Regions from separate parts of the Homo sapiens genome. Here regions 2 and 3 are each linked to region 1. The links come from fine-mapping of genetic effects on gene expression. A gene starts in region 1. Each other region holds a variant in brackets. All regions are shown on one strand. Distances are between the middles of the regions. Region 1 holds the start of PDPN (podoplanin). Region 2 overlaps PDPN (podoplanin). Region 3 overlaps PDPN (podoplanin).

What was found.
Region 2: its variant is fine-mapped to the expression of PDPN in cerebellum (GTEx, PIP above 0.99).
Region 3: its variant is fine-mapped to the expression of PDPN in skeletal muscle (GTEx, PIP above 0.99). The same link has a PIP of 0.9 or more in breast, esophagus muscle, fibroblasts, gastroesophageal junction, sigmoid colon and subcutaneous fat.

What each region holds. Positions count from the first base shown.
Region 1 is chr1:13,578,466-13,588,760 of GRCh38, forward strand. PDPN (podoplanin) reads left to right here and starts at 5,367. Exons shown (of 6, transcript NM_006474.5): 1 at 5,367-5,635. The coding sequence starts at 5,569. RefSeq lists an enhancer at 5,270-5,808.
Region 2 is chr1:13,598,721-13,609,015 of GRCh38, forward strand. PDPN (podoplanin) reads left to right here. Exons shown (of 6, transcript NM_006474.5): 2 at 8,453-8,586. Among named protein-coding and RNA genes, the nearest start is that of PDPN, 20 kb to the left of the region's middle. The variant CCTGA/C (reference allele first, on the strand shown) is at 5,720.
Region 3 is chr1:13,615,556-13,625,850 of GRCh38, forward strand. PDPN (podoplanin) reads left to right here. Exons shown (of 6, transcript NM_006474.5): 6 at 350-2,402. The coding sequence ends at 356. It also overlaps the pseudogene RNA5SP41. Among named protein-coding and RNA genes, the nearest start is that of PDPN, 37 kb to the left of the region's middle. The variant G/A (reference allele first, on the strand shown) is at 4,536.

The DNA of each region.
Region 1 (10,295 bases):
TGTAGTCCCAGCTACTCGGGAGGCTGAGGCAGGAGAATCTCTTGAACCTGGAAGGCGGAGGTTGCAGTGAGCCAAGATCGCACCACTGCACTCTAGCCTGGCGACAGAGCGAGACTCCGTCTCTATAAATAAATAAGTAAATAAGTAAATATAAAGTATGAAATGGGTACAATGTGTCTTCAGCAGCCCCAGGCTTTCTACTTTGTGTGCTTACTCCTTGGCAGTATCCAAGAATCAAGTACCCATGGTACCTCATCGAAACATCCTCCTGGGAAAGGGAGAGAACCCCATACACGTCGAGGTCTGTGAGACGGACTGTGCTAAGTGTGTGTCCGACTGTGCTAAGTGTGTGTCCTCCCGAGGTGTACTGGCAGCCTAAAAGGCATCCTTAGCCATCAGTGAGTTTGCAAGGGGGAGGGGAAATGTACTGAGATTTGGGGAGGTGCTGGCAGGGCTCTCCCAGCAGCCCCCAAAAACACAGAAGTCACTTACTTGTTTCGTCTTTGGCTGATTGTACATTACATGTCATTGACTCCACCTCCAGCCTCAGGCTGGGCTGAGGTTCTTTCATGGTGAGGGTCTTCCGGTGGGCTAAGGAAAATTACAAGCTTGACTTTCACAAGTATTTATGGAGCAGTGGTAGAGGCAGAGGCCAGAGAGAGACAGAGAGAGAGATAGCTCTCAAAGCTAAGCTCCTGGCTTTGGGAGCTTAGGATATCATCAAAGGGGGCAGAGATAAAGCATAGCTGGGAACACATTGGGCTCAATCCTTTAACTACAGTGGGGTGGCATGAGACAGCCCTATTGCTGGGAGGAGATCCAGCTCCGCAGGGGTACAGGGCAGGGGCCTTCAAATGGTAGATGCACACAGATTTCCCCAGAAGAATGCCAGCAAGGATGGGTCCAAGGGGATCAATTTCCAATGCCTCAATGTTCCTAAGTTTTCTTCTATTTTATAATTTTTTATTTTTTATTTTGTAGAGACAGGGTCTTGCTATGTTGCCCAAGTTGGTCTTGAACTCCTGGCCTCAAGCAATACTCTTGCCTTGGCCTCCCAAAATGCTGGGATTACAGGCATGAACCACTGCCCTGGCTCCTAAGTTTTCTTTTCTTTTTTTTTTTTGAGACAGAGTTTCGCTCTTGTTGCCCAGGCTGGAGTGCAATGGTGCCATCTCGGCTCACCGCAACCCCCGCCTCCCAGGTTCAAGCGATTCTCCTGCCTCAGCCTCCCTAGTAGCTGGGATTACAGGCATGTGCCACCACGCCCGGCTAATTTTGTATTTTTAGTAGAGATGGGGTTTCTCCATGTTGGTCAGGCTGGTCTCAAACTCCCGACCTCAGGTGATCTGCCTGCCTTGGCCTCCCAAAGTGCTGGGATTACAGGCATGAGACACCACACACGGCCCTGGCTCCTAAGTTTTCTACTGAAACTTCTGGGAAAATGTAGCACCTTCCCAATAATCCAACCCCAATTTACAAAAAAACAAACAAAAAAAGCAGATTCTTATCCATCCCATATCTTCTTATGGAGCATTTCCTGGGGTGAAAAAAATCTCTTTAGTCCCAGGTTGGCAGTGTGAAACTGTCTTTCCCCGTGCCGTCCAGAAAACCACCAGGATGGCTCATATTAGAAAGGCTAATATTAGTGGCGATGTCAGTTTACAAATGAGAAAGAGACTGTCTCCAGCTGGACCAAAGGTGCTGTCTTCAAAGACAGCAGGTTGAGTTTTCTGCCTTCCAGGGCCTGTGTTCCTATGTAGCAGGTTTGAAGGAAAGGCTGTCCATTTACACGAGGGGAGTCATGTGCGTGCACGGTGGGTAAACATGCTTGTAACTTACATCTCATGTTCACTTCGGAGCGGGGTTTTAGTTAAAATGAGGTGGCATTTGGTTCTTTACGTCAAAATGTGAACTATAGGACACAAAGACAGTTCGTATGCATCCTCTCTCAGCTGCTGAAACTGGCTTGAGGTGTGCAGTAGCTTATCAGGAGAGAATGTTTGTAAGGCCAGTCCTCTGTCCAGTCAGAGTTGTAGCGGTCTGGGTTATAAATCAGAATTTTGGTCCCACTCAAACCCGTAAGTGTGTTACTTATTCCTGGGCCATAGAGCTGCCTTTGCTGTCAGAGATTCAGTTGTGGGTATCTCAGCTCTGGAACATGGCATATTGATTTTTAAAGTTATTATTATTATTATTATAGAGTAAGGGTCTAGCTCTGTTACCCCAGCAGGAATGCAGTGGCATGATCATGGCTTACTGCTGCCTTGACCTCCTGGGCTCAAGTGATTCTCCCAACTCAGCATCCTGAGTAGCTGGGATCACAGGTACGTGTCACCACACCTGGCTAATGTTATTTTTATTTTTTATAGAAGCAGGGTCTTGCTATGTTGCCCAGGCTGGTCTCAAACTCCTCACCTCAAGTGATCCTCTCGCCTCTGCCTCTCAAAGCATTAGGATTACAGGTATGAACCACTGCGGGTTGGGGGGCTGGTGTCCCATTGTGTGTTGAGAAGCATCTTCCCAGCCAGGTCAGCCCAGGCTGCCTGGAGCAGCTCAGCCAGGTGCTCTCTGGACTCTGCAGAGCCCTCAGAAAAACACAGAGCTTGAGGAGACCCTGATGTGTCATCTCCAGCATCCCCCAGGGTGGAAGGTACCAAACTGGCAGCTCTGGCTCAGCTCCTCATTCCACTGCTGGTCCACACCTTTTGGGGGTCCTCTTGCTTCCTAAAAGCAATTTACAGACGTTTCCCACACAGTCCTGCAAGGCACAGGCACAGTGCTAGTAACAGGCTCAACTCCTGCTCTGCAATGGAAATGCATGACCCCACCGCTCCTACCTTGTAGGATCCCACACAATTTGCATGGTGGCCTCTAAACCCACAGTCCTCAAAGTGGGGACCCAGGACCAGTAGCTTCAGCATCACCTGGGAACTTGTTGGAAATGCAAATTCTTGGGCCCCACCCCTTACCTATTGAATCAGCACTTTGGCAGTGGAGCCCAGCAGTCTTGCCTTCCAGGCAAGCAAGCCCTCCAGGTGAATCCACTCTCAACCTCACTTGTGTAGGAAATGGGTATCATCAATGTTTGGAAGCCAACCGTTGTTTTGGGGCTGAAAGGAAATAGTGCGTGTTCCTGGCAGGAAGATAAAGGCCAGTATGTAGCAGCTGCTGTTATCTCACCAGTAACGCATCATCATTCATGGCCATGGCTTTCTGAGCTTAAGCTGTTTGCCAAGAATGGAGCCACATACCCTCCTTCTTTCCCTCTTCCCCTCAGCTGAGCAGGGTCTCATGCTTCCAGATCCCCTGTGTTTCACTTCAGCTCCTTTAGCTAACCGAGTCTCGCTGCCCAAGGCCCATATTCCTTCTCTCATGAGCTGCTGGCTCTATCTGGTCCAGGAGGGTGAGTTCTTTCTTCCCTCTGGTCTTCAGGTTCCCCCTCCCAAGACCCAGCTTTTCTCTCTAGGTTTTCAGACCAACAGCACCCAGAGCCGATCCACTAACTCCTTCATCCTGGCCCCTCTCCCCACCCCAGGACCCCCAGCTGAATGCAATTCCTTATTACCTCCCACTCCTCCATCCTGATCAAAAGGTCATGTGACCAACCTTCTAGATTCTAGACACATCCGGGGGTGTGGGATAGAAGGCAGGTGTCCTTGAATCATGACCTAGCCTCAGCATCCCTCTAAATTAGTTGCATGTAACCCAATCTCCCCCACCTAGGCTTCACTGTGTTTCAATCTTTTTGAATAAAGCGGGCCATCTTTCTTTCTGTGTGTGACCTTGGAGTTACACATAAGCAGAATAGATGTGCATCTATTCTCCATCTAACAGGCTCAACAGACAATGCACTATTCCTCCTGTCAACAGACATTATTGACACTAGAGTCATAAAATGCATCTCCAAGATGGGGAAGTCAGTTCAAGAAAGAGTATCTGTATCACGAGTTTTCTCTTTACATTTCCAACTCCTTGGCTCTAGGGGTGTTGCCGCTACCCCTCATCTTCTAGGTTCAGGTGCTCAGCTCCTGTTTGTAGCCCCAGGACAAGACGTTACCTGGGAGATCTTTAGAAATGCAGAATCTCTCCCTATCCCACAACAGAATTGCACCTGCATAACCAGTGCCCCAGGTAGATCTGGCTGAGAAGCTATGATGAAGGGCAAGGTTTGCCAAATGTTCATGGGGACAAGTTCTCCAGCGACACTGGTTTAAAATAGGAATTCCGAAAAGGTCTGATTAATGAGTTTGGGGTGGAACCCAGGAAACTGGGCATTTATTTAAAACAATCTCTCCTGTGATTCTTAGAAAGTAAATTTATAATGGGGAGGGGTCAAAGATAAGCATCTGAAAACAATTTTCACGCAATGTGGAGCTTTGAGACAGCGTTAGTCTTCAGGTTCTTTTGTTGAATGGAATTTGTGGCATCTGGGAGTGGAGCAGAGACCACTTCCCAAACTCCTGTTCTTATTTTTTTAAATTCCAGCAATTCAGAAGGAATTAAAGTAAAAGACGTAAGTTCTCTGGTTGCTGATATCTGGTACCTGAGATCAAGGCAAGATCGCTTAAACCAGTAAAGTGAGGATTATGGGAGCAAACTCAGGAATAAAGAGGGTGAACCAGGCCTGGAAGGGGACACAGGTTTGGCGACCAGACGGGTCACCGCTTGGCCCGGCCTAATCCAACTGCGCACGTCGGTGGGCCACAGCATCGCAGCGCTGGATCCCCGGGTCGGCAGAGGCGGATGGAGTTCAGCCTCTTTTTCAAAACTGCCAAAGCCACCCGGTCTGCCAAACTCCCCCACCAGCCAGCTCTGGGGCAGCCCCCCGGAGCCCGCCCGCTCCGGTCCCCGGGACAAGGGCGCAATTGACCAGCGCGGGCCGCCTCTGGCCCACCCAGATGACGGCCAACTTTTTTTGTTTTTAAGCCATCAAATTCAATATTTACAGGAAAAACCCCATGCTTGGTTCTAAAACTACTGGCCACTCAAGAAACAGTTTACTTCTCACTTCTGCCCATAACAAGAAAAACATAGACTTGTGCCTTACTCTTAAAAAAATAATAATAATAAATATAGGTTTTTTAAAATTTATATATAATTTTTAAAACCCCGTTTGTTGCATGTGGTCCCTTTCCCTCCTGTTGTTGAGCAGAATAAAAGCCCATTTTGCCAGGGCCCGCAGTCCTGGCGGCCCCCGCAGCTGCGGCCCTGTAACTTTAAACCTGGCCTGAGATCATCGTTTTGGCGCCGGCCAAACAGAGCCCGAGGGCGGGCCTAGCGCGCCCGGACGGAGACCACCTTGCGGCCGACCCCGCTCCCCCGCCTCCTCGGGAGAGATAAATGCTGACTCCGCTCGGAAAGTTCTCAACTGCAAAGTTTGCTGTCCGGCTGCCTAGGGTCTGGGAAGCTCGGGCACCCTCCCTCTCCGGGGCTCCTGCTCCCACCCCTCCGGCCCCCCCACCGTCGCGCTCCTCCAGGCTGGGCCTGTGGCCGCGGTGCTTTTTAATTTTCCCCCAGCTCAGAATCTTGCTGCTCGGCCCCCAGGAGAGCAACAACTCAACGGGAACGATGTGGAAGGTGTCAGCTCTGCTCTTCGTTTTGGGAAGCGCGTCGCTCTGGGTCCTGGCAGAAGGAGGTAAGACCCAGCGCAAGTGGCTTCCTGCCGTCGCTGATGGGGACGAGCGAGCAGAGACTTGCTGGAATGCCCGGGCCTGGTATTCGAGGTTGTCCAGGGGAGCGCGGGGGAGCTGAGGGTGTGTGCGTGTCAGGCGGCTGAGCGCCGGAGGAGGAGAGGCAGCGGCTTAGTCGGTGCCAGGTCCCAAAGACGCAGCTGCGCGGGTGTGCCGGGAGGAGCCCCGGAATCCACAGGCTGCGAGGTGGGCAGCACAGGGGGCCTCCCTCCGAGTCGGCAGCACCAGAGAGATCGGGTGGAAGGTTCACAGTAGGCAGCCCCGCTTGCTGGCAGCAGTGGCTGGGGTTTCCTTCCCATAGAGCGGTGTGTTGGAGGAATACGCACGCCTCGGGAGAAGCTGGCCTCGTAGAATCAGGAGGGACGTTCAGGAGGGCTTGGGCCAAGGGGAGGGTTCCCCGCCCTGCGGTGGCCCTGGTCCCCCTTGGGACTACCTAGTCTGGCGCCCTGCCTGTTGGACACACTCAGCACCCCGTCACTGGACTGGAAGAGGCCTCCTTTATCCTCTTTAGAGAGGATAGTGTGTGTGGAAAGGATCCAAGTGGAGGCTTCCGAGGAGTGTGAGTGCATGAGGATTGTTACGCGTTACGAACATTGAGGTTTAAGTGGGTTTGAGCCACGTGTTCATCTTGGGCAACAACATCAGTGGCTGAATGTCTGTTGGTGACTCCTTAGGCTTTAAATATTTTGTATCCCATGTTGGGGTGGGGGCGTCCACAGCTTCCATTACCCTTTGTCCTCTCCTGGAGCCTTACCTCTTCCCGCTGGGTTGCTGTGTTGGTGGTCTCCATTGACATCTGTCAACATTTTGTTTTCTTTTCTTGGGTTTTTATTTTTATATTTCCTCAATAGAACATATGTTCTGCAGGACGCAGCTACATCCAGCCATGATTCCCCACGGCCAAAACAATGCCTGGCACATAGTAGTTGCTCACTAAATGTTGGTTGAAGGAATTGTAACCTAACTCGTGATCTTTGGGGCTGGAGGTTGCTGAGTTATGCTGTGAAAAGTAAACATTTTCCAAAAATTGAGGATCAAGGTAGGCCTAGGCCCTGAGGAATACTTCTTGGAGAGGGAGCGGTTTGCAGGAGGGGTGCGCCTAACCTGGCCTCCTACAATGGTCCACACAGACAAAAATACCCAATCTCAGGGAAATGACAGAGTTCTGCTCTATGCTGTGCTGTCTGCTTCAAAGGGACTGAGCAACTCTTTTTATAGGGGCCGTGGGTTATTCGTAGCAGTCCTATCTTTGGAACTTCTCTTTCCACTGGAATATATACAGTTCTGTATTTTCAGTTACATTTCCTTTTTGGCGAGACAATGTGCAAATGACACCGTTTTGTGCTCACCAGGGCAAAGCAAGGGAGCGCCCTCACTTCAGCATCTCAGCCCTGCTAAAGAAAAAGCTGCTGGGTAACATCCTTTGTTTTTGCCCAGGGAAGCTTTAGCTGTGATTCCCTTCAGCCGGCTCCTGAATGTCAAAGGTACTCCTAAAAGATGGCGTTAAAACCGAAAAACCATCGTTGGTGCTGGAAACTCCACTACTAAAGAAAGAAGTGGTATGCGGGGCTGGCTGAGTGAGGGTGGGTGCTGAGTTGCCTGGCTGCCAGAGGAGCAGAGGCCCAGCAGGGTTTTTGTCTGAGAATAATGAGCGAGGCGACTTGAATATGGATGAATAACATCATTGAGCGAAGCTATTGTGGGCTTTTGTTGGGGAGCTGGGCTGGGGGGTAATTATGGTGATGAATTTTATGATCCTTTTCATAAGATCCTACGCCCTACTGGGTTTCCCTCCTCCAGGGTTATAATCTGGTTCAGTTTTATAATCTGGTCCCATGTGTCATCCCTTTGGGTGTTAGTGGATTCAAAGGAGGTCTGTTGTCCACACATCTGGCATTTTTTTCCATTGTCAGGCGCCACCCTCATGCTGAACTTTCATCAGGAAGGCACGTTTTGGGGGCCACTTCATTAGAGAGTTTATTTTGTGAGATTCTGCAAGCTGCTGCTCGCTGCTAACCCACATGTGCTTTTCCGGGACCAATCCACCCAGGATTAATCATGCGGCCAACAAATTTCCCTGTGATTTCCCCGAAACGCTTGCCAGTTTGGAGGCCCTGAAATCCTCATGAGTTGTTAAGAGTTTTTGTTGCACTGAAGGCACTTAATAAAGATCAGGTCTGTTAGAGGCTTTGTGAGGGAGGCCTCTGCATTGCACTGGTGTATAAGATCCAAAATAGCATTGAATATAGAAAAGCACAATTTAAAAAATGTGTCCGGGCATGAGAAGGCTAAGTCTGGACGTGGCCAAAGGGACTAAACTCCTTCCTTTCTTTGGCTTCTGTAAAATGAGCAGCACGCGAGTGACTCTACACTGTAGAATTATAAGGACCTCAAGCCTTGGCAAGACAGTGGAGGGTCAGGCCAAAGGACACAACCATCCTCTCATTCCCATCGCCTGCCATGTGCTAGGAATATTGCTAGCTACTTCTTTCAATCATCATAATACCTGTAAATTACATACTCTTATCTCGGAATATACCAGAACTGGGTTTGAAAAATATGTCTAACTTCAAACCTGAAGATCTTTTTACTACACTACTCTGCCATTAAAAAAAAAAAAAAAAAAAAGAGGCTGGGCATGGTGGCTCACGCCTGTGAGGGGCCGAGGCGGGCGGATCATGAAGTCAGGAGTTCGAGACCAGCCTGGCCAATATGGTGAAACCCCGTCTCTACTAAAAATACAAAAATTAGTTGGGCATGGTGGTGCGCGCCTGTAGTCCTAGTTACTTGGAGGCTGAGGCGGAAGAATCGCTTGAACTCGTGAGGCGGCAGTTGCAGTGAACCAAGATCACACCACAGCACTCCAGCCTGGCAACAGAGCGAGACTCCGTCTCAAAAATATATATAAAAACAAAGTAAAGAGGTTGAACTTGAAATTAAAGGTTAACCTCACTTTAAGCCTCTTAAACGTAGAAACAAAATTTTCTAAAGATACGAGAATTCCTTTACATTAAATGCTCCCCATAATGTTCTTTTAAGAATGAAATTGTCATAATACATTAAAATAGGATTTATTAATTCATTCTGCAAATAGTTATTAAGCATTTCCTGAGTTCTTGGTGTGTTACTAGATGCAGAATTTGAACTGTATGCACTTTTGAGAGAGGCACACCTCACATGCTAAAGTGTGCCCTGCAGTCCTCACCAGCAAAGCAATGAACATGCACTTTCAAATTCCATCGGCTTATCTGAATATTTGTCATATTTCTGGCTTTGGAAAGGAGGCAGGCCAGGTTATAACTTGTGGAAATACGACGGGGGAGGAGGAGGAGGAGGGAGAGAGAACTCAACTACTCAGGATTACCCTGGTGAAATTTATTTGACGAATCTGAATCAGATGCTGTAGGGCTTTTCCAGGAAGCCTTGCCACTCTTGGTGCCCCAAAACTTCTCAGGGAAGTACCCAGTGTGCACGTTTTATTGAAGAGAATCAACTGATGGAGGGTGCTGGACACTTCCAAGTGGACAGTTACTGTGATGAGTCTTAGGATTCTCATTTGCTGGGCAAGAGATACAGCTCCGTGATTAGGCATTTTATCTGGGGCTGTGAGCTAGAGCCCCGGTAGGGAATAACTGGAATTCTGCCAATTCCATCCAAGGCAGGAAAACAAGGTGACTGTTTCCTTCCCACATGTCTAACCCCAGCCCCTGTCCACCGGCCTGTTGGCAGCCAGTCAGATGATGGCAAGCTCCCCTGAGTGTCAGCCGAAAGAGGTAGGAGGGCTCACCCTCCTTTTTGTCTGGCTGAGTGTCTTTGCCTTGAGAATTGCTCAGAGATGGATTTGTCCTTTGAAGTGAATCAAGCTAAGTCCAGGGGGAAGTACGCAGGTATGGCCAACTCGTTCATGTAGTTTTTTGAGGAGCTGAAAGCTGACATTGTGAGGCAATGCTAAATTTCATGAACCCGCCCCCCCAAACACACATACACACACACACACACCCCTGGAGAAAGATGTGATGGGCTCTTGACCCCCATCCAGAGAGGCCAGGCCACAAAGTGCCGTAGGCAATAGAGGGAGACCAACCCTGAGCCACTGGGGTAACAATCACCATTGTTAATGTTTGCAGCATGTACAAATGCCAGATACACAGAGTGTAAATGGGAAGCAGGAAAGGGGCATGCTAGAATATTTTTAACATATTATTGATGAGAACAGGGCACTTCCCACAATTCATCAGGGTGTCTCCATCCGGGAGAACAGAACACAACTCATTTAAAAAGCTGTGATACAGCGAATATTGTCCTGCCCCAAAGAGAAGGGAATCAGTTTGCCTAGAAGAGGAGAAGAATGAGAATTTGTTGATGTTTAAACCTTCCCTGCCCAAAGAATTAACTGATTTAACAAATATTTTTATTATATATAATATAAATATATAACTATATATTATATATTTACATATATAATATATAATATAAATATATAACTATATATTATATATTTACATATATATAAAATATATATATAATATATGTATTTTTTTGAGACAGGGTCTCACTCTGTCACCCAGGCTGGAGTCCAGTAGCACTATCTCGTCTCACTGTAGC
Region 2 (10,295 bases), 20 kb after region 1:
GTGCAGCGCCCCATGCTCGTTCTGGGCTTTGGGGTTAGTTAGCACCAGCTGTTCCCCTATCTGGAACTCACCCATTCACTCAACAGCTACTTACCGAGTGCCTGGTATGTGCCAGGGATTTCAGACATTGTGGACATTGAGATGAGGCAGCCTTTATCAAGCTTATATTCCAGTAGGACAGACAAGTAGCGAGCAGGTAGCAGGGTGGGGGTAAGCATTCAGGTATATGTGCCGTGGAAGAGGGGAGGGGTACTCGCTTAAATGGACAGTCCAAGAAAGTGCCCCCCCTCCTTTTTTTTTTTTTTTTTGGAGATGGAGTCTCGCTCTGTCACTAGCCTGGAGTGTAGTGGCGCAATCTTGGCTCACTGCAACCTCCGCCTCCAGGGTTCAAGGGATTCCCCTGCCTCTGCCTCCTGAGTAGCTGGGACTACAGGTGTGCACCACCACGCCTGGCTAATTTTTTGTATTTTAGTAGAGACGAGTTTTCACCATGTTGGCCAGGATGGTCTCGATCTCCTGACCGTGTGATCCACCTGCATCAGCCTCCCAAAGTGCTGGTGGGATTACAGGCGTAAGCCACCATGCCCGGCCAGAAAGTTCCCTGAGATCTGAAGGCATGAGGGAAGCTATCTTGATGTGTTCGAGAAGCTATCTTTTTTTTTTTTTTTTTTTTTTTTTTTTTTCAGACAGAGCCTTGCTCTGTCACCCAGGCTGAAGTGCAGTGGCGCAATCTCAGCTCACTGCAACCTCCACCTCCTGGGTTCAAGTGATTCTTGTGCCTCAGCCTCCTGAGTAGCTGGGATTACAGAGGCCCACCATCACGCCTGGCTAATGTTTGTATTTTTAGTAGAGACGGTTTCACCATGTTGGCTAGGCTGGGTTCAAACTCCCGACCTCAAGTGATCCGTCTACCTTGGCCTCCCAAAGTGCTGGGATTAATAGCTTATCTGATGTGTTGCTTATTTTTTTATGGTGACCCCACCCCACTCCAAGAGTACTCTAGTCCTTAAGAGTGGAGATCTTCCTTACCTATTCACTTCTCTGTCTCTAGTGATGAGAATGTGGCCCAGCTCTTGGCAGGTGCTTGGTAAATATTTGTGGAAGGAATATAAATGCTGGGAGCTGGGGCTGTAGAGGTGAACTCATGCAGGCTTCAGTCTTGGTTTTTGCTGCTGCCTTAACTTGCACAGTTAAGCGGGGAGAGGGCTGCTGCTGCTCAAAGCAACACCTCCTTTAGAGTGAGTCATACCTTCCTTCTAACCTGCCATTGCTGAAAGTTTAGATTCGTCCAGATTTCTCCTAGTAAGGGGACACACTGGAGGAGGTCAAGACTGTGGTCATTAAATAAGACTGGAAGATTCTAACAAGATGGGATTTCATAAGAGGCAGTGAGGTACCAGGGGAAGCAATTGTTCCTGACTACCAGGAACGTGATTTCTGGGAAGATGAGGATGGCACCTGGGCAGAAGGGGAAGGATCTCAGAACCCAGGGAGGGAGGCAGCAGGCATTTTAGCCCAAAGCTGCCGGGAGAGCACATCACGAAAATGCACAGCTGCTTTTTAGTTGTATGTTGGTGAGTCCAGGGATGCGGTTAGAATATTTGGCTTTGTGTCCGCTAATGAATCATGAACTTGGCACATCACTTAACTCTTTTTTTTTTTTTGAGATGGAGATTCACTCTTGTCACCCAGGCTGGAGTGCAATGGCACAATCTCAGCTCACTACAGCCTCTGCCTCGGTTCAAGCGATTCTCCTGCCTCAGCCTCCCAAGTAGCTGGGACTACAGGCCTGCGCCACCATGGCCAGCTAATTTTTGTACTTTTAGTAGAGAAGGTGTTTCACCACGTTGGCCAGGCTGGTCTTGAACTCCCGACCTCAGGTCATCCACCTGCCTTGGCCTCCCAAAGTGCTGGGATTATAGACGTGAGCCACCGCGTTGGGCCACATCACTTAACTTCCGACCTTGTTAAAGAAACACTAATTCTGACACTTGTTGAAATTGTACGGAAGACTTTAGTCAAGACCCCTGTAATAAGGGGCATTGCAGTAGGGAGGAGAGCTCAGGTTCACCTCTGGGTGAAAGGAAAAGTGGGGATTTGTAGCCCACAAGCAGAATGAGGGGATCAGTGGGTGGAAAATTCCTAAGAGATGGGGTTGGGGGGACTCTTGCTAAACTGGCCTAACAAGATTCTTTGTGAAGGCAGGCTAAGGGCCTAGCCACCACAGCGCTGTTGTGAAATAAAGTCAGCTGGGAGACGCCATGTAAACCCTACATTGTGAGTAGCAAATGTGAGAGGGTGTTAGGACAATGAGGTGTCTTCCACGTTAAGTGGAATTTACAATGCTGCGTCAGTGCCAGATCTTGAACGACCCCAAATGCACCTGTTTGAATACTTACTTTTCCTCCTTGCCCTAAACACTGAGTTTTATTCTAGCTACTCCCTGGTCACTGATTTAACTCAGCAGCTGTCAGCTGATGTGAGGAGGAAGAGGGAGCTTACAGTGAAGAGAGCACGGATTTAGAAACAGCTTCTGGAGACTCTGCAGACAGAGGGCCCATGTGGAGTGGGGATAGTTGGCAGTGTCCAGGCCACTTAAGCTGGGCCTTGTGCTAAGTTTCTCCTGTAACTGTGACATAGTATTTGTTTGTTTTGGGACCATGTCTTGCTCTGTCACCCAGGCTGCAGTGCAGTGGCACAATCTTGGCTCCCTGCAACGTCTGCCTCCTGGGTTCAAACGATTCTCCTGCCTCAGCCTCCTGAGTAGCTGGGACTGCAGGCATGTGCTATCCTGCCTACTTAATTTTTGTATTTTTAGTAGGGACAGCATTTTGCCATGTTGGTCAGGATGGTCTCAAACTCCTGGCCTCAGGTGATCTGCCTGCCTTGGCCTACCAAAGTGCTGGGATTACAGGCCTGAGCCACTGCACCCAGCCATGACATAGTATTGGAAAGAAAAGATTTGTCTCAATGACAGCTGGTTTTGAAGCAGTGGGGAAAAGAGGATTTATCAGGGTGATTGGCTAATCTTTTGGGGGGAAATTATATTTCTCTTTTATTATAATACTTCAAAATAAACAGACAAAAATATTAAACGTAAGTACAATACCATAAGGAAAACATAGGTGAATATTTATGTGATCTTGAGGAAGAGTTTGTGAGTGTGATGTCAAAGAGAAAACAAGTTTAAGAAGTTTGACTACTGATAGCTTGGTCATTTGCAAAAGAAAGATGTAGGCCGGGTGCGGTGGCTCATGCCTTTGGGTGGCTCATGCCTTTGGGTGGCTCATGCCTTTGGGTGGCTCATGCCTTTGGGTGGCTCATGCCTTTGGGTGGCTCAGCACTTTGGGTGGCTCAGCACTTCGGGAGGCCGAGGCGGGTGGATCACAAGGTCAGGAGATTGAGACCATCCTGGCTAACATGGTGAAACCCTGTCTCTACTAAAAAATACAAAAAAATTAGCCGGGTGTGGTGGTGGGCACCTGTAGTCCCAGCTACTTGGGAGGCTGAGGCAGGAGAATGGCGTGAGCCCAGGAGGCAGAGCTTGCCGTGAGCCGAGATCGTGCCACTGTACTCCAGCCTGGGCGACAGAGCAAGACTCCGTCTCAAAAAAAAAAAATGCCAGCAGCATTTAGGCCAAAGAATACATTCTTAAGGTATGAACAGTGCTTATAAGAGGGAATGCCATGTGACCATTACAAAAACGGTCACAAAAGAAGACAAATGGATGAAACAACTCGCTCCACAAATCAAAGAAGTGTAAATAAAACCAGAAGACTGAAATCACTTATTTAAAAGATTTTTATTAAGAATTTGGACTATTACAATAACAGCCTGATTGAATGTTACATCTAAACTCAAAAGTACTTCTTTTTTTTGTCTCCCAGGCTGGAGTGCAATGGTTCAGTCTCGGCTCACTGCAATCTCTGCCTCCTGGGTTCAAGTGATTCTCCCGCCTCAGCCTCCCCAGTAGCTGGGATTACAGGTGTGCACCACCATGCCTGGCTAATTTTTTTTTTTGTATTTTCAGTAGAGACGGGGTCTCACCATGTTGGCCAGGCTGATCTTGAACTCCTGACTCAGGTGATCCACCCGTCTCAGCCTCCGAAAGTGCTGGGATTACAGGCGTGAGCCACCGTGCCTGGCCAACTCTAAAGTATTTTTAAAGAAATGGCAGGCTGGGCACAGTGGCTCATGCCTGTGATCCCAGCACTTTGCAAGGCTGAGGTGGGAGGACTGCTTGAACCCAGGAGTTTAAGAGCAGCCTGGGCAATGTAGTGAGACCTTGTCTCTACAAATATATATATATATATAAAAATAAAATGAGATGTCATCTCTATAAATACAAAGGAGAGAGAGAGAAAAAAACAGAGAGAGATAGAAAGAAAGAAATTCTGTTTAAAAAAGAAATGCCCACTTTGGGAGGCCAAGGCAGGCGGATCACCTGAGGTCAGGAGTTCGAGACTAGCCTGGCCAACATGGTGAAATGCCATCTCTACTAAAAATATAAAAATTAGCTGGGCGTGGTGGTGCACACCTGTAATCCCAGCTACTTGGGAGGCTGAGACAGGAGAATCGCTTGAACCCAGGAGGCGGAGGTTGTAGTGAGCCGAAATTGTACCATTGCACTCCAGCCTGGGTGACAAGAGTGAAACTCCATCTCAAAGAAAAGACAAAAGAAATGCCATCCTGTAATGTGTGCAATCTAGCGAGTTATTAGACATGAATGCAAAGATAAAAGTTATTCATAGTTAGTGATTTCATATAAATAAGCATTGCTTACGTTTATTTGTTCTCAAAAATTAAGAACCCCAAGTGACAGTTGATTTATCAAATCATCTTCTCCTAGGAAATAGAAACTTCAGCCTAGCTTTTTTTTTTTTTTTAAGACAGAGTCTCACTTTGCCACTCAGGCTGGAGTGCAGTGGCATGATCTCAGCTCCCTGCAACCTCCGCCCCCCGAGTTCAAGTGATTCTCCTGCCTCAGCCTCCCGAGTAGTTGGGGTTACAGGCACCTGCCACTGTGCCAGGCTAATTTTTGTATTTTTAGTAGAGACGGGGTTTCACCATCTTGGCCAGGCTGGTCTTGAACTCCTGACCTCGTGATCCACCCACCTCCACCTCCCAAAGTGCTGGGATTATAGGTGTGAGCCACCGCGCCCAGCCCTGCCTAGCTTTTTTAAAATAATCACAACAACAACAAATTTCAAAGTAAGTGGATCGTTTGCTGCCGCATTTGGAAACTTCCACTGAGCCGTGTTTGGCTGAGGCTGGGTGTGGCAGGAAAGGGTGTTTATGTGAGCACGCTGGTACACCACTCCAGAACTGAACCTGCAAGCTAGGTTGTGGGTATTGGTTTATGATGGCAAATTCGTCACTCTACACTTGTAGAAACAATTGTGTGTCTGCACATATGTGCATCCCTGTATGTGTGTGTGTATGCGTGTGTGCGTGCATATGTATGCCTGTGCATACATATGTCTTGGGGAAAAGAGGATTGGAAAGTGAAGGCATCCATGATTTGAATTTCAGGAGGAAGGGGAAAAGACATGAGATGCTGGCTGGAAACTCGGCAGCTGGCCTAGTAGGAACTCTTCACCCAGGGAATCCTTCAGCCAAGATACTAAGAGGGACAATTGGGGATCTCTTGTTAAAGTTCAGCTTTCCCATGGAGCAAAAAGAATGCTAGGGCGGTGAGACAAAAGACATGCATCTTAAT[CCTGA/C]CTATCATTCATAAAACGCCTTTTGTCCATTCAGAGCGATTTTAGTACTTGGCTCTGTGGGCCAAGGGTAGAAAAGAACAAGAAGGAATTTTTATAAAGTTACGCTTTCAATGAACTGAGCTTTCTATGAAAGAATTCAATCTAATTTCATTGAGCACTTGATTTTTTTTTTTTAAAGCAAGGATTGTTTTAAGTTAGATACACCAAATAAGTAAGTGATTGTACTAAACCGCTCCAGAAAACGTTTTTAAAATTGATGATTTGTTAACTAAGTTCAAACCAGGTGAGGAAGAAATAAAATGGGAAGCTTAGTAAGTTTTTTAATAAGGACTACTTGTCTGGCAAAGGGATATTTCCCATTGAGCTCAATAAATACACAGTAAGCGTTTGCCTACACCACAAGTCATACATTTTTGTAGGAGCCAATCACCAACCCTCACCTCTACCCCTACTCCAGCAAAAGGCCACATGGAGAGGCAAACCATTTGCATGCATGGAAATATTCGGTTATTGCTAACTGGTAAACCCCTCGCTGTACACCCCCAGATTAAAAAAATGTGTAGGTAGCTCATCCAAAGCCATCTCTACTGGATTAGGACTCTAGAATAAAAGAGCAGGCTCATAGAACAAGTGAACTAACTTCAGAGGCTTCCTCTAGGCATCAAAGAAGCTATAATCAAATATTTATTAGCTGTGCCTCTGGCTGGGCTGTCTAAGCAGTGGGGAGAATAAGGTATCTTAAGGCAAGGAATGGATTGCTGATATAAGTGCTGTCTAAGCAGTGGGGAGAATAAGGTATCTTAAGGCAAGGAATGGATTGCTAATGTAAGTGCTGCCTAGAGACAAACAAACATCTGCTCTTTCATTACACAAAGAAATTTCCAAGCACCTCCCTCCCCCTCGCTCCTGGGATGTGTATGCTTGTTTATTTTGCAACTGTATTTAGTCATGGAATTTCCAGAACCACTGGAGTTTAGGGAAGAAGCCCATGGCCAGTGAGTCACATTTTTAATGCACAAAGAGGGTTGTTTGGTGATTTTTGGAGATGATAATTGAGCATGGTCATGACTAGTTTGGGTCACTGCAACAGAAGTTGAAGAAGAGGATACTGCTGTTATCTGCTCTATCTCTCATTGTAGAATTCAGCCTGGTAGTCCACTCCAATTCCCTGCTCCAGCAGAAACCTTTTTTTTTCTTTGAGACGGAGTCCTGCTCTGTCACCAGGTTGGAGTGCAGTGGTGTGATCTTGGCTCACTGCAACCCCCACCTCCCATGTTCAAGCGATTCTCCTGCCTCAGCCTCCCAAGTAGCTGGGACTACAGGCATGCAACCCCATGCCCAGCTAATTTTTGTATTTTTAGTAGAGATGGGATTTCACCACGTTGGCCAGGATGGTCTCGATCTCTTGACCTTCTGATCCGCCCGCCTTGGCCTCCTAAAGTGCTGGGGTTACAGGCGTGAGCCACCACACCTGGCCCAGAAACCTTTCTCATTGGCATGACACATCATTTGTCCAAATGTTAATGCGGAAAAGCCAGGGCCAAGGGCAGTTCATTAGTTTGGCTCTTTTTTTTTTGGAGATTGGGTTTCGGCTGGAGTGCAGTGATGCGATCTCAGCTTACTGTAACCCCTGCTTCCTGGATTCAAGCAATTTTCCTGCCTCAGCCTCCTGAGTAGCTAGGATTATAGGTGCCCACCACCACACCAGGCTAATTTTTGTATTTTTAGTAGAGACAGAGTTTCACCGTGTTGGCCAGGCTGGTCTCAAATTCCTGACCTCAAATTCCTGACCTCAAATGATCCACCCACCTTGGCCTCTCAAAGTGTTGGGATTACAGGCGTGAACCACTGCACCCAGCTAGTTTGGCTCTTGGTGTACTAAGTGTTCTGTTGGTGTCTTGGCATCCCTAAGCATATTACTGACCCTCCCCTGTAGACAGTAATCTCAACTGTAAAGTAAGAGGTAAAACTCCATGTAATCTACGAGGTCTGTGGTCAGAGCCTGTGGTTCTAATTGTCCAAGTGAACAGCAGTCTTAAAATTAAATGGAGAGAGAGTTTGCTTTTAAAAAGATGGAAGTTGGGTGTGGTGGTGAGCACTTGTAGTCCCCGCTACTTTGGAGACTGAGACGGGAGGATCGCTTGAGCCCAGGAGTTTGAGGTTATAGTGAGCTATGATTGTGCCTCTGTACTCTAGCCTCAGCAACAGAGGGAGAGCCTGTCTCTTAAGAAAAATTAATTTGAAAAGGTAGAGAAAAAAATAAAAAAATAAAAAGATGGAGACCCCGCTTTTGCATCGGGTCTGCAAAGGGGTGTGTTTAGAAATCTTTCCTGTTGACTCTAATTTAGAGTTTTTAGGTCCAGATGAATATATTAATTCATCATATGAAATGACACCAGGAAGAATCTGGTTCCTTATTGAAAAGGAAAGATGTACGTCCCCTGTCCAGGCCACCTCGATGGGGCCCCAGGGAGGGGCTGGCTGCTCTACCTTTTAATGTTTTCATTTTCCTTTGCTTTGCAACGGAGATAACCAGGGTGTTGATGTGTCAGAAGTGCTGCAAGGAGAATGGTTTGGTTTCTGGCACCACAGTAAGCCACAAAAAGGACCAAAAATAAAACAAAAATTTCCAAAAGAAATGGAAAAGAAAATAATCCGAATGTAGCCGACAAGTTGGGTCTGCTTATGCAATTTCCACCTTAAGCTCTGACTCAATCTTTCTTCTTCAGCCAGCACAGGCCAGCCAGAAGATGACACTGAGACTACAGGTTTGGAAGGCGGCGTTGCCATGCCAGGTGCCGAAGATGATGTGGTGACTCCAGGAACCAGCGAAGACCGCTATAAGTCTGGCTTGACAACTCTGGTCAGTGTCCTGGGAAGAGAGGAATTTTTTCCGTAGGCATGTGATCACATGCAAGGCTATGATGTATATTAATTTACTTTATATAAAAATATATCTATCTATAAAATCAGCATGAGCCACCATACCAAGGAATAGTTACGTGGCTCAACAAAGAAGAATAAGTCCTCACTTAATGTTGTTGATAGGTTCTTGGAAACTGTGACTTGAAGCAAAATGACTTAGAAAGAACCAACATTATGTGAGGACCTGCTGCATGTCATTTTCCTTAAAGTCGCAGTTTCCAAGAATCTATCAACAACGTTAAGTGAGGAGTTACTGTCTTTCCCAATTTCGTCCACTTAGCTGGTGTGCTGATCACAGGTGGTTGGAGAGTAGAAGCCAGAGCTTCTCAAATTGGTAAAAGGAGCCAGGATTTTACATTTCCAATCTGTTACAGCCCAACTTTCAATACAATGAAAGTTTTCTTGGGTGTTGTGGCAATGTCATTGCTATAAAGGGTTCTAAATATATCTTCTCAGCCGGGCGTGGTGGCTCACACCTGTAATCCCAGCACTTTGGGAGGCTGAGGCAGGTGGATCACCTGAGGTCAGGAGTTCGAGATCAGCCTGACCAAGATGATGAAACCTTGTCTCTATTAAAAATACAAAAATTAGCTGGGCGTGGCTGTGTGCACCTGTGATCCCAGCTGCTCGGGAGGCTGAGACAGGAGAATAGCTTGAACCCGGGAGGTGGAGGTTGCAGTGAGCCGAGATCGCACCACTGCACTCCAGCCTGGGCAACGAGAGTGAAACTCCGCCTCAAAAAATAAATAAATAAATAAGTCAGTCAGTCTCAATTTGTTTTCTCACTATAGACTGGTAATAAACAGGACTAGAATCAGTCCACAGACCACAAGATGATAGACTATTTAGCCTCTCGACCAACACATTCTTAACCTGATGAATTTTAATTAACTCCTCATATGTGTTACATACCTACCATAGACAAGAGAAGGTGCCAGGCATTGGGAGGGATTGAGGAGGTCAATGAGCCACATCCTCGACCTTTGAGGGAATCTATGATTTCTTTGGTAACAGAACGGAGGTTCCTGCCTGCCTATCTGACCTGTACACCAGCATCTCCTTAACTTTCTCTTTTTCTGCCATCTTGGCCTTTCTGACCTTTGAACACACTAAGCTTGTTCCAACTTAGGCTTTGGTTTTCTCTGCCTAGAACACTGCCCAGATCTTTCCATGGCTGACTTTTCCTTATAATTCTCAAGTTTGATGCCATCTCAAACAGCCTAAAGTAATCTCACCCCCACATCTGTTGGAAGTAAAGCTCAGAGTCGCAGAGAAAACGAACACTTAAACAAAAGATTTTTCACCAAGGCCAATTTATTTCTGTAGAAGGTTGTTTCTCGCAGGACTGGTTGTCACAAGAGCACACCGAACAAAGGCGGGAAAGGGTTTTTTTATTCTTAATGCAGTTTGTCCCTACTACTGTGTCCATTGGCTGGAGTTGGACAGCACAATTTAAACTGAGCCCGATTGGCTAACTTGAAAGACAGTTTTGGCGGGAAGAGTCGTTACAGCGGGAGGGGTAAATTACAGAACGGCTGCCTTTTTCTTACGCATCTCAAGGTTGATGCCATCTCAAACAGCCTAAAGTAGTCTCACCCTCACCTCCATCAGAAGTCACCCTCTAGCCCTTAGGTCAGCAAACTACCC
Region 3 (10,295 bases), 37 kb after region 1:
GATTACAGGCATGAGCCACCGCACCCAGCCAAAAACCTTTTTCTTATATGAGTTGGAGGGATGATATATGATGGAAGGGAGGGGAGAGGACAAGTGATAAACACCTGGAGGGTTGAGGGATACAGGGGACAACACAGCTGTGGACTTAGCGTGTTTGGAAAAGCCAGGCAGTTTGACCCTGCTGTGTGAGGACGAAGGCATGGAGGAGGAATGTCAGGAACAAGAGATGATCACCAGGTGTCAGAACTTGGAAGATTTAGAGCAAAGGACAATAGGAAAAAGGACTCACGGAGTTACTATTCACAATGCCAGTAAGAGACACGACCGTCACCCTTCTCTATTTTCACAGGCCCTAAAGAGCTGAAGGGTTACGCCCTGCTGCCAACGTGCTTAAAAAAAGACCGTTTCTGACTCTGTGCCCTGTCCCTGAGCTCGTGGGAGAAGATGACCCGTGGAACACTTGCCTGGCCCACTCAGAATCCACGGTGACCTCTCCGCTTGCCAAAATAACCGAAGGAAAGACCGTTCACCAGACTTGGCTCCTCTAAACATTTGCTGTTCAAACATGTTTTTGAATATACATTCTATAAAAGATTATTTGAAAGACAAAATTCATAGAAAATGGAGCAAAACTGTATAAACTGATTTGTAACTAACACTGGACCATTGGATCGATATTATATGCTGTAACCATGTGTCTCCGTCTGACCATTCTTGTTATTGTTAAAATGCAGAGGAATCTGGAAATATTTATATCCACGGAGTCCTTGGATCCAGTGCTACGTCAGTAAATAGCACCAGCATTTTGCAATTGCTGATCTGCTGAAATGTACACATTCTGGTCTAGTTTGGTCTATCTTTTAAAGCCTGATCTGGTGTGAATAATCAACTAGGAAATCTAAACTTGGATAACACGTGGTGAACAACTGCCTTTAGCTGGTCCAGATTAATCATTTCAAAGACATCCATTTTAGATCACAAGCAGGAAGTCGATAGTCTCAAAGGCACTTTGTTTCTCCCAAGTAGGCCACCAGGCAGCCTCTAGAGTTGCTTTACCCAAATCCTTCTCCAGCCATGACTTGGTGACTCTAAGCTTGCTCCCACCTGCCCCCTCCACTTCCCTCAGATGATGAGGAGCCAGGGCTAAGGGGGCAGCCTTCTCTCTTCCCAGTGATGCACATCCTTCACATTGGCTGCTTTGTTCTGGAATATGGATATCTCAGCCTGGATGCCGAGGAAGCTGCTGGATGCTTAATGGTGCTAGAGGCTCAAGTGTGTTTGAAACCAAGAGCCAGTTGTCCCCCATGCAGAAAGAAATCCTGTGTGAGCCTCTGGTATGAGAAATAAAATCTGCCAGTTTTATAACATTCACTTTCTGCCTCTGAGGAAAGATACAGGGAACAAAAATCAATTTGTACAGTCTTAATATTAAAAGCAGCTTGACTAAATACCTGATTTAAAAATAGAAGACATCCCCAGTCCTCATGACATACCGCAAATATCTGTGGGGTCCTGTTGAAAAGAACAAAATAAAGGAGCCCAAGGGGTCATTCTGTCTCAGCACCATCCAGCCTGGCACTTCTCTTCCCATATATCCATTGGATTTTTTTTTTTTTTTCCTAAACAAAGTTTTTACACTGAGCAGATGCTCTGTCATGATGGCGGTTGTGCAATTCTGGTATCCTCTAAATTTGTAAGCATTCATAAAACAGGAAAAAGTAAACTATCATTCGGAAGCACAGCCCATTCCTCCCATTTTTTGCAATGATGTCTGGATGTTATTTTAAACAGTGTGTCTGTGTGTTCCCAAATCCAGCTGGCCCCACCAGCTCAGATTCCATTTTTTTTGTGTGTGTGTGTGAAACGTAGTCTGCAACTCTGCCTCCCGGCAATTATACATGTGTCAGGATGTCAAAAAGCAATTCTCCTGCCTCAGCCTCCTGAGTAGCTGGGACTACAGGTTCCTACCACCACACCCGGCCAATTTTTGTATTTTTAGTAGAGATGGGGTTTCACCGTATCGGCGAGGATGATCTCTATCTCTTGACCTCGTGATCTGCCCGCCTCGGCCTCCCAAAGTGCTGGGATTACAGGCGTGTGCCACTGCGCTCGGCCTCAGATTCCATATTTGAACACCAGCTGATTGAGAGAAGGGGAATGAGAAGAGCTGGATGAGTTTAAATAACTCATTGTTCAGATTCCTGAACAGGAGTTGGGATAATGGCCATCTTTTCTTTCCTATCCTTTCTTCCCCCCTCACTGTGAAAAATAACAGTCCACCCCAAGTCATACACTGGACCCAGTGCCTGCGGGGACAGGACTGTGGGTTTCTTGGTCACACCTGTGTTGGTGCTCAATGCAGTGTAGACATGTTTTCAAATAAAACAAATGATTGTGTACAACAATGAGTCAGACTTTTGTTGGAAAACACAAGTCTGGGCCACACTTGGGAACATCTCCAGATAAGATTACAACTTAGGTAAATGCCTGCCTGTTGCCTTGCTTGAGAGTGGATTATAGATGGCCAGGGGAATGAATTCCACAGGAGGAAAACACACCTACACCTTTCAGCTAGGTCTGCCAAAGTAGAGAGGTCAAGTAGAAGCATGGGCATGGGAGACACGTGGCACCTGGGGGCTCTCTCCCTCTCTGGTCCCAAAGGGTTAATGAGGTTTTCCCTGATTTTTTCTGTTTTGTTTTGAGATGGAGTCTCGCTCTGTCGCCCAGGCTGGAGTGCAGTGGCGCGATCTCGGCTCACTGCAGCCTCCACTTCCTGGGCCCAAGCAATTCTGTCTCAGCCTCCCAAGTAGCTGGGACTATAGGCGTGCACCACCACACCCACCTAATTTTTGTATTTTTAGTAGAGACGGGGTTTCACCACATTGGCCAGGATGGTCTTGATCTCCTGACCTCGTGATCTCTCCCTGCCTCGGCCTCCGAAAGTGCTGGGATTACAGGTGTGAGCCACTGTGCCCAGCCACCTGATTAATTTCTCAGCACTGGAGGGTAAAACCAGGTGAGGGGGCAATTTCATCTTGCCCCTGCTAGTCCTCCCTAGAAACCTCACCTCAGGAGAGGTGAATCCCTGTTGCTGGGGGACGCCCCACGGTTCCTTGCTCACCCCGACTCTGTCTGGAGATTGCCCTGGCCAGCTCCTGGGTGGGTGCTGCAGATCTCCTCCTCCCGACCCCACCGCACCACTCCATGTGGATTTATCCTCCTGATGCGGGTCCCTTCCCTGCCAGCGTAAGGATCAGGTGCTAGGAGCGGGAGAGCAGTTAGCCCCATGACTTCCTCGAAATAAATATTCAATATTGTTAAATTAGGACTGTTGAATTTGTCCGTTGTCAGTAATCCTGGGTGCCCATTTGAGTTCCAAACAAGGAACCATATTGTATGCCTGTAGTTCCAGCTGTTTGGGAGGCTGAGGTGGGAGGATCGTTTAAGCCAGGAGTTCAAGGCCAGCCTGGGCAACAAAGTGAGAGCCCCATCTCTTAAAAAATGGACCAGGGTTCTAGTCCTGTTCTGCTCCTCCACACCTGTAACCCTTCAGGGAAGTCATTTAACTTCTTTGGGCTGCAGTTTCTTCTAAGAACTTTCATGAGATGTCAGAAAGCATCCCTTTTCTAGCAGGAAACTAACCACGTCTACCTAGTCCAACAGATTGAAAGAGAACGGACCCTCAACTATGTTACATGTAAATTTACATTCCATTACATGCCACCCCCAGGAGATGACTGGAAACTGGGGGAGCTGCCAGGGTTCTGAAAGTTTAGGGAAACAGCTCTATCAGAGACATCTGGGAGCAGGGGGTGCTGAGGTTAGCTCTTTGCATGATATAAAGGCCTTGTTTTTAACCCCTACTTTTTCCCCTCAACCTGGGAAAACCAGTTGAAAAACCAGGGCTTAGTTCTGCTTCATGGGCCACCTTCAAGGCTTGGCTTTCATGAATAGGAAAGAGCAAGGAACTGTTAATCCCTTTGCTGTCTCTATTTTTATTTTAATTCAGATTTATTTAGTATTCAGGGCATGGGGCAGTTTGTGACATGCTTCGATTGGGGAATGGTGCACGTTTTGATATTAAAACTTTTGCCAATTAAAAGTCCATTGGAAGTGGAAAAAGAATCCTCCCCAAAATATAGCTGCATGTTAACACATGCACTAAAAATAGAGTCATCCCCTTGTGTGCGCTGGAGGACTTGTTCCCTGAAACATTGCCTTTTTCTTTGCTCTTCCTGAAGCTTAAAATCGGGTTAGAACATATAATAGATCCTGGATTTTTCAACTCAGTAAATATAAATGATGTAAGTGTGGTTATTGGTCAACAATGCAGAATGAGTCTAAAATCACACTCACTGGTGTGAATGGGAGTTTTTTTGGCTCAGGGGCCCAGCATGCAGGTACGTACCTGGTACAGGCAAAGCCAGCCTGAAAGCACTAAACACTATTCCTCAGCACTGTTTCTTACTCTGAGATTATTTTATCAGATGCTGACTCAAAGCACAGCGTGTTCTATTTCTACATCCAAGGGCTCC[G/A]GGCCATAGTACAGACAGTCCTATGCGTGGTTCTGAGACCTTGCTCCTCCTCCCATTTTTTCTTTCCTACCTCCTTCTCTACTGCTGCCTCTGCCTTTCCACTGATGCAAATTTTTGAGAAAACAATCACGTGCTGGTCACATACCAGGGCGATCAGCAAATGTTTCTGAAGTGACGGCTTCCCTCTGGATGCTGCTGAAGTAGTCAAAGAGGTCGTCTGAAATATTTGTTTGAATAAATGAGCTTACGGTCCTCCGCATGTAACCTCAGGAAGGTGTGCAGGTGTCCTGACCGAAGCAGGAGGTGGACCCCTTCCTGTTGCTCCTGTTCCCACCCTTCCACAGAGCATCTGTAGGTGAGGCTGGATCTGTGGATGGCCCAGGGCTCACTGGAAAGGGAGTAGGATTCTTGTCCAGCAAGATCCAGAAACAAAAGACACTCCCTTGGGTATAACTGCTGAAGAACTCTCATGGGACAGGAGTAATCTGTTCCTTCATTTATTTATTCATTCAAATATTTATGTTCAGGCCCGTCCCAGGTGCTGGGAATCCATAGTGCATGAAACCAACAAAAATTCCTGCTCACATAGAGCTTACATTCTAATGCTGGAGACTGCAAAAAAAAAATAAGTAAATCATAAGAGTGTGAAAATGAGAGACAATGGAGAAAAACACAGCAAGGAGAGGAAGTTCAAGTTTGGAGGAGCTGCAGCATGGAGTCTGGGGTGGGAGAAGGCCTCTCTGAGAGTCAAGCCATGTTCCTGAAGTGGCACGGCGAGGAGTGATCCTGATGGGTACCTGAGGGAAAAGTATTCTGGGCAAAGGGCATAGCAAAGGTCTGAGGCAGGAGCACCCTTGGCATGTTTTAGGGAATGCAGGGAAGCTCAGAAGGCTGGAGCAGTCAGCGCAGGGGACCATGGTAGGAGATGACGTCAGAGAGGTGGAGTGCCCTTGGAAATGGGGAGCCATGGGAAGCTTTTGAGCAGAGGAGTGACATGATCTGACTTACATTAAAAAAAAAAAATCCTCACCTCTGGTTGGGAACTGGCCAGTGTGAGAATCCAAGCAAGAGATGATGGCAGTTCAGACCAGGATGATAGCAGTGGACGTGGTTTAAGGTGGTCTGGTTCTAGTGATAATTTGAATGAAGTCAACAGAATTATCTGATAGATTGGATGTGGGATATGAGAAAAATGGGAGGGTCAAGGTGACACTAAGGATTTTGACTTGGGCAACTAGGATAATGGAGTTGCTATCAGTTAATAGGGCAAGGCTGTGGATGCTGCAGGCTTGATAGGGCAGAGTTGGAGTTCTGTGTTGAACATGCAGAATTTGAGCTGAGTACAGATATCCAGCTGGGGGTATGAAGCAGGCAGTTGGGCACATGAGTCTAGAGTTTAAATGAGAGTTGACTGGAGACATAATTTGGGACTTGCTAGAACCTAACAACCATGATGCTGATGAGCTCACCATGGGCAGAGTATAAATAGAGAAAGGCAAGTCCAAGAACTGAGCTTTGGTGTACCTCAAGGTTAAGAGTCAGGGATATGCAGAGAGATCACCAAAGGAGTCTCCCACCATGGATTGGATGAAATACATTTCAGGATTAGCCATTCCTGTTGTTCTCTTCCGTACCATCTCACAGTCTTCTGATTAAAAATCCAGCTTCCGGCCGGGCACGGTGGCTCACGCCTGTAATCCCAGCACTTTGGGAGGCCAAGGCGGGCAGATCACGAGGTCAGGAAATCGAGACCATCCTGGCTAACACGGTGAAACCCTGTCTCTTCTAAAAATACAAAAAAAATTAGCCGGGCGTGGTGGCAGGCGTCTGTAGTCCCAGCTACTCGGGAGGCTGAGGCAGGAGAAGCACTTGAACCCAGGAGGCAGAGGTTGCAGTGAGCCAAGATCGCGCCACTGCACTCCAGCCTGGGCGACAGAGCGAGATTCCATTTCAAAAAAAAAAATAATAATAATAATAATAATAAATAAATTAAAAAATCCAGCTCCCCAAGTAGCTTAATACTGGAACGAGGGTGTCCTGGATAATGGACACAAATATTCCCACCACTGGAAAATATTATTAGTTGAAAATTACTAACTTGACATTTGGGGTTATAATCAGTTTCTTATGAGTTGATTGGCATGAGTTAGGTCCTAGGACCTGCTCAACCCCGGTTACTGTTATGCAACTAGGATTTTAAAACTATAAATCTTCAGGCCAGAATGATGACCACATCAAAATCCTCCTGCATGCTGGGCGTCCAACTCTCTTCCCTAGACAGCACTTCTATTGTAAGTCCCAACTATAATGGTTCCTACTGACCTCTCAGTTTAGCATCCATCCGCTGCACTGAGTTGCTCTGATCAAGCTTCCGAATGACCTCCTGTATGTCAATTCCAGGCCCTCTTCTTGGTCTTGTCTTCATTCATCCTCTGCAGCCATCAGCCCTGTTTTTGGTCCCCTTCTTGAAGCCGTCTTCTCTCGCTTGGCCTGCATGACATGCTCCCTTATTGGTTGCCCTTCCTGGTTCTCTGCAAGCTGTTCCACTGGCTCTTTTCTTCACTTCCCCCTCTTTGCTCACAGGCATGCTTCAGGCTTACTTTTTGCTTCTCTATGGTCTTTCCCTTGGAGAACTCATCTATTCTTAGAGCTTCAAATGGCATAAGCTCCAGAAGAGCAGGCATCTGTTTGGTTCTCGGCTACATCCTTGGTCCCTGCAGCAGTAACTGGCACATAACAAGTGAACAGTGCCTCCCCCTTTACATGTGCGCCATCAGCCTCCTAATTCAGATCCTCAAGCAAAATCTCATCACAATTGCAAACTTACATGCCCACATCCCCTCCTCCAATCTGATCTGCATTCTACCAATGGGATCTTCCTAAAATGTACTTTTTTTGTTTGCACATGTCACCACATTCTAAAAGTGATCCAGTGATTTCCTACAAAATAACTTGATGGTCAAGGGCTTCTACACTTTTTTTTTCCCTTAAGAGATAGGGTCTTGCTATGTTGCCCAGGCTGGATTTGATCAAACTCCTGGACTCAAGCAATCCTCCCACCTCGGGGTCCTGAGCAGCTGTGACCACAAGCATGCACCACAGCACCCAGTGGCTGATATACTCCCATCCAAGTACCAGCCAGGTCTGACCCTGCTTAGCTTCTGAGACGCATCCAGAATGGTATGGCCGTAGGCGCCGGCAGCTTCTATACTTTATCATGGGGCTGATATCACATTTGTACCTCCACTGTAGTCAAGTGAAAAGAGCATGGCTCTAGACCCTGGCTATTGCAGCTTTGGTTCCAGGCTGTCCTACTTCCAGTGTGGAGGAAATTGCTTAACGTTTTTACGTCATCGCACTCTTGATTTAAAGGAACCAAGACTCAGAAAGAAAGCATCTTTATGCAATGTTATGTGTTACATATATACACATTCCCATGTGAAAACATGGGAAATAAATCCTACGGGAACCCCCAAGCAACCACATAGCTCAGCCTACAGGAACTGAGAGTTTTCTACACAGCACTGGACTCTGGATTATCTTGACACCTCTACCACTGTTCTGGACAGTTTTCCTGTGCCCTGGTGAGTCTATTCTCCACTTTTCTTCCCCTGACTCTGTGACCTGAGAGGTTGACTTGAATAGACTACATCAACCAAGCTCTCTTGCTCTCAAGGTTCTGGTTGGGTTTGGCCAATGGAAGGCACTGAGAGGTGATCCAAGGGCAACAGAAGAGACAGGCTGAAGTATTTATTCTTCCGGCTTCTTCTCTGCAAGGCCACATGCTGCCAGTCATTGTGTTTTTCTTTTTTGAGACAGAGTCTCACTCTGTCACCCAGGCTGGAGTACAGTGGCACGATCTCGGCTCACTGCAGCCTCCACTTCCTGGGTTCAAGCAATTCTCCTGCCTCAGCCTCCCGAGTAGCTGGGATTACAGGCGCACACCACTATGCCTGGCTAATTTTTTGTAATTTTAGTAGAGACGGGGTTTCGCCATGTTGGCCAGGCTGGTCTCAAACTCCTGGCCTCAAGTGATCCACCCGCCTCGGCCTCCCAAAGTGCTGGGATTATAGGCCTGAGCCACCACGCCTGGTCCAGTCATTGTGTTTTTCTACCAAAAACCCCAGCTCCTGTTGGGTGGCCCTTTGCTTTTACCATAAGTCTCACCAGGTTCCAGGAACAAACTCCTCTTTTTGTGTCTTTAAACCTATGGATGCTAAGGGCTTCTTACGATCACTAACCTTCAGGTGCTTCACCGTCCCTTTTTGGTTTCCTTAACCCTGTGTTGCCACTGGCAAACAGTTCCTTCATCCAACTCTCTGCCATCACTCTTTTGAGGGTGCCATGTGTTTCCTGCTGGCACCCTGACTGATAAAACCACATGGGCATGTGTTGGTGGCCAATATTAGGGTGATCTAGCCCTTCACGTTTCTTCCCTTTGTGATTCCTACCACTACCAACCAATGATTTATTTTCTGCTCTGAGCATCTATTCTCTACTTCCTGGTTTCTGCTTATTGGTAATGTCCACTGATTCACCCCTTAAATCGCACATGGACTCTTAAGGCCCCACCCTGCCTCCATGGCCTCTCTTTGTGTATTCTCTCAGCTTTAGCCTTGGCTACCAGCAGACTGATTCACTCTACATTTCCGGGACTTCTGATGTCTAAGGAAATCGGGTTGGCCTGGCTGGTCACCATGGCCTCTGTTGGCCAGAGCTTCCTGTGCCAGGCCCCAGGTCACTGCTTACTGCAGATACCCACTCTGCCCCCGCAAGTCATTGTCCGTTCCTTGTTGACAGGGGTAGCTATGGGAAGATGAACGCCTGAAAAGGTGTGAAAAATAATACTCATATCACAAAGTTTTTATCAGCTTTAAAGTAAATAATGAATGCTTAATGCCTGTATGAAAACACAGAGACTATTCTGTAATTAACACAATTATTCCAACAACCACTTCTTACTTCTATTATTATAGTCAGTTACTCTTATATCATCCCTGTGAAGCAGGCAGGGCAGAAATTATTTCCAATTTACAAGTGAAGAAATTGAGATTCAAAGAGTTACGTAAAACTAGAGTTACCCAATGCCCGAAGTACAACCAGGATGCAGGTGTCTTTATTTGTTCTCCATCCCTCTTTTGTTTAGTCCACTTGTCCTTTTCTTTTCTTTTCTTTTTTCTTTTTTCTTTTTTTTTTTTGAGACAGAGTTTCGCTCTTTTTGCCCAGGCTGGAGTGCAGTGGAGCAATCTCGGCTCATTGCAACCTCCGCCTCCCGGGTTCAAGCAATTCTCATGCCTCAGTCTCCTGAGTAGCTGGGATTACAGGTATACGCCACCAGGCCCGGCTAATTTTGTGTTTTTAGTAGAGATGGGGTTTCACCATGTTGGCCAGGCTGGTCTTGAACTCCTGACCTCAGGTGATCCACCCGCCTCAGCCTCCCAAAGTGCTGGGATTACAAGCGCGAACCATTGCGCCCGGCCCCACTTGTTATCTTTAAAATCAGTTGTCTCCCCATCAGCTCAACAGTTGTGCATTTCAAAGACATCATTTCTGCAGCCAGTGGGGAATAGGGAAGTTCTTTCTTTATTTATTGAGATGGAGTCTCGCTCTGTCGCCCAGGCTGGAGTGCAGTGGCATGATCTCAGCTCGCTGCAAGTTCTGCCTCCCGGGTTCTTGCCATTCTCCTGCCTCAGCCTCCCGAGTAGCTGGGACTACAGGCGCCCGCCACCACGCTCGGCTAATTTTTTTGTGTTTTTAGTA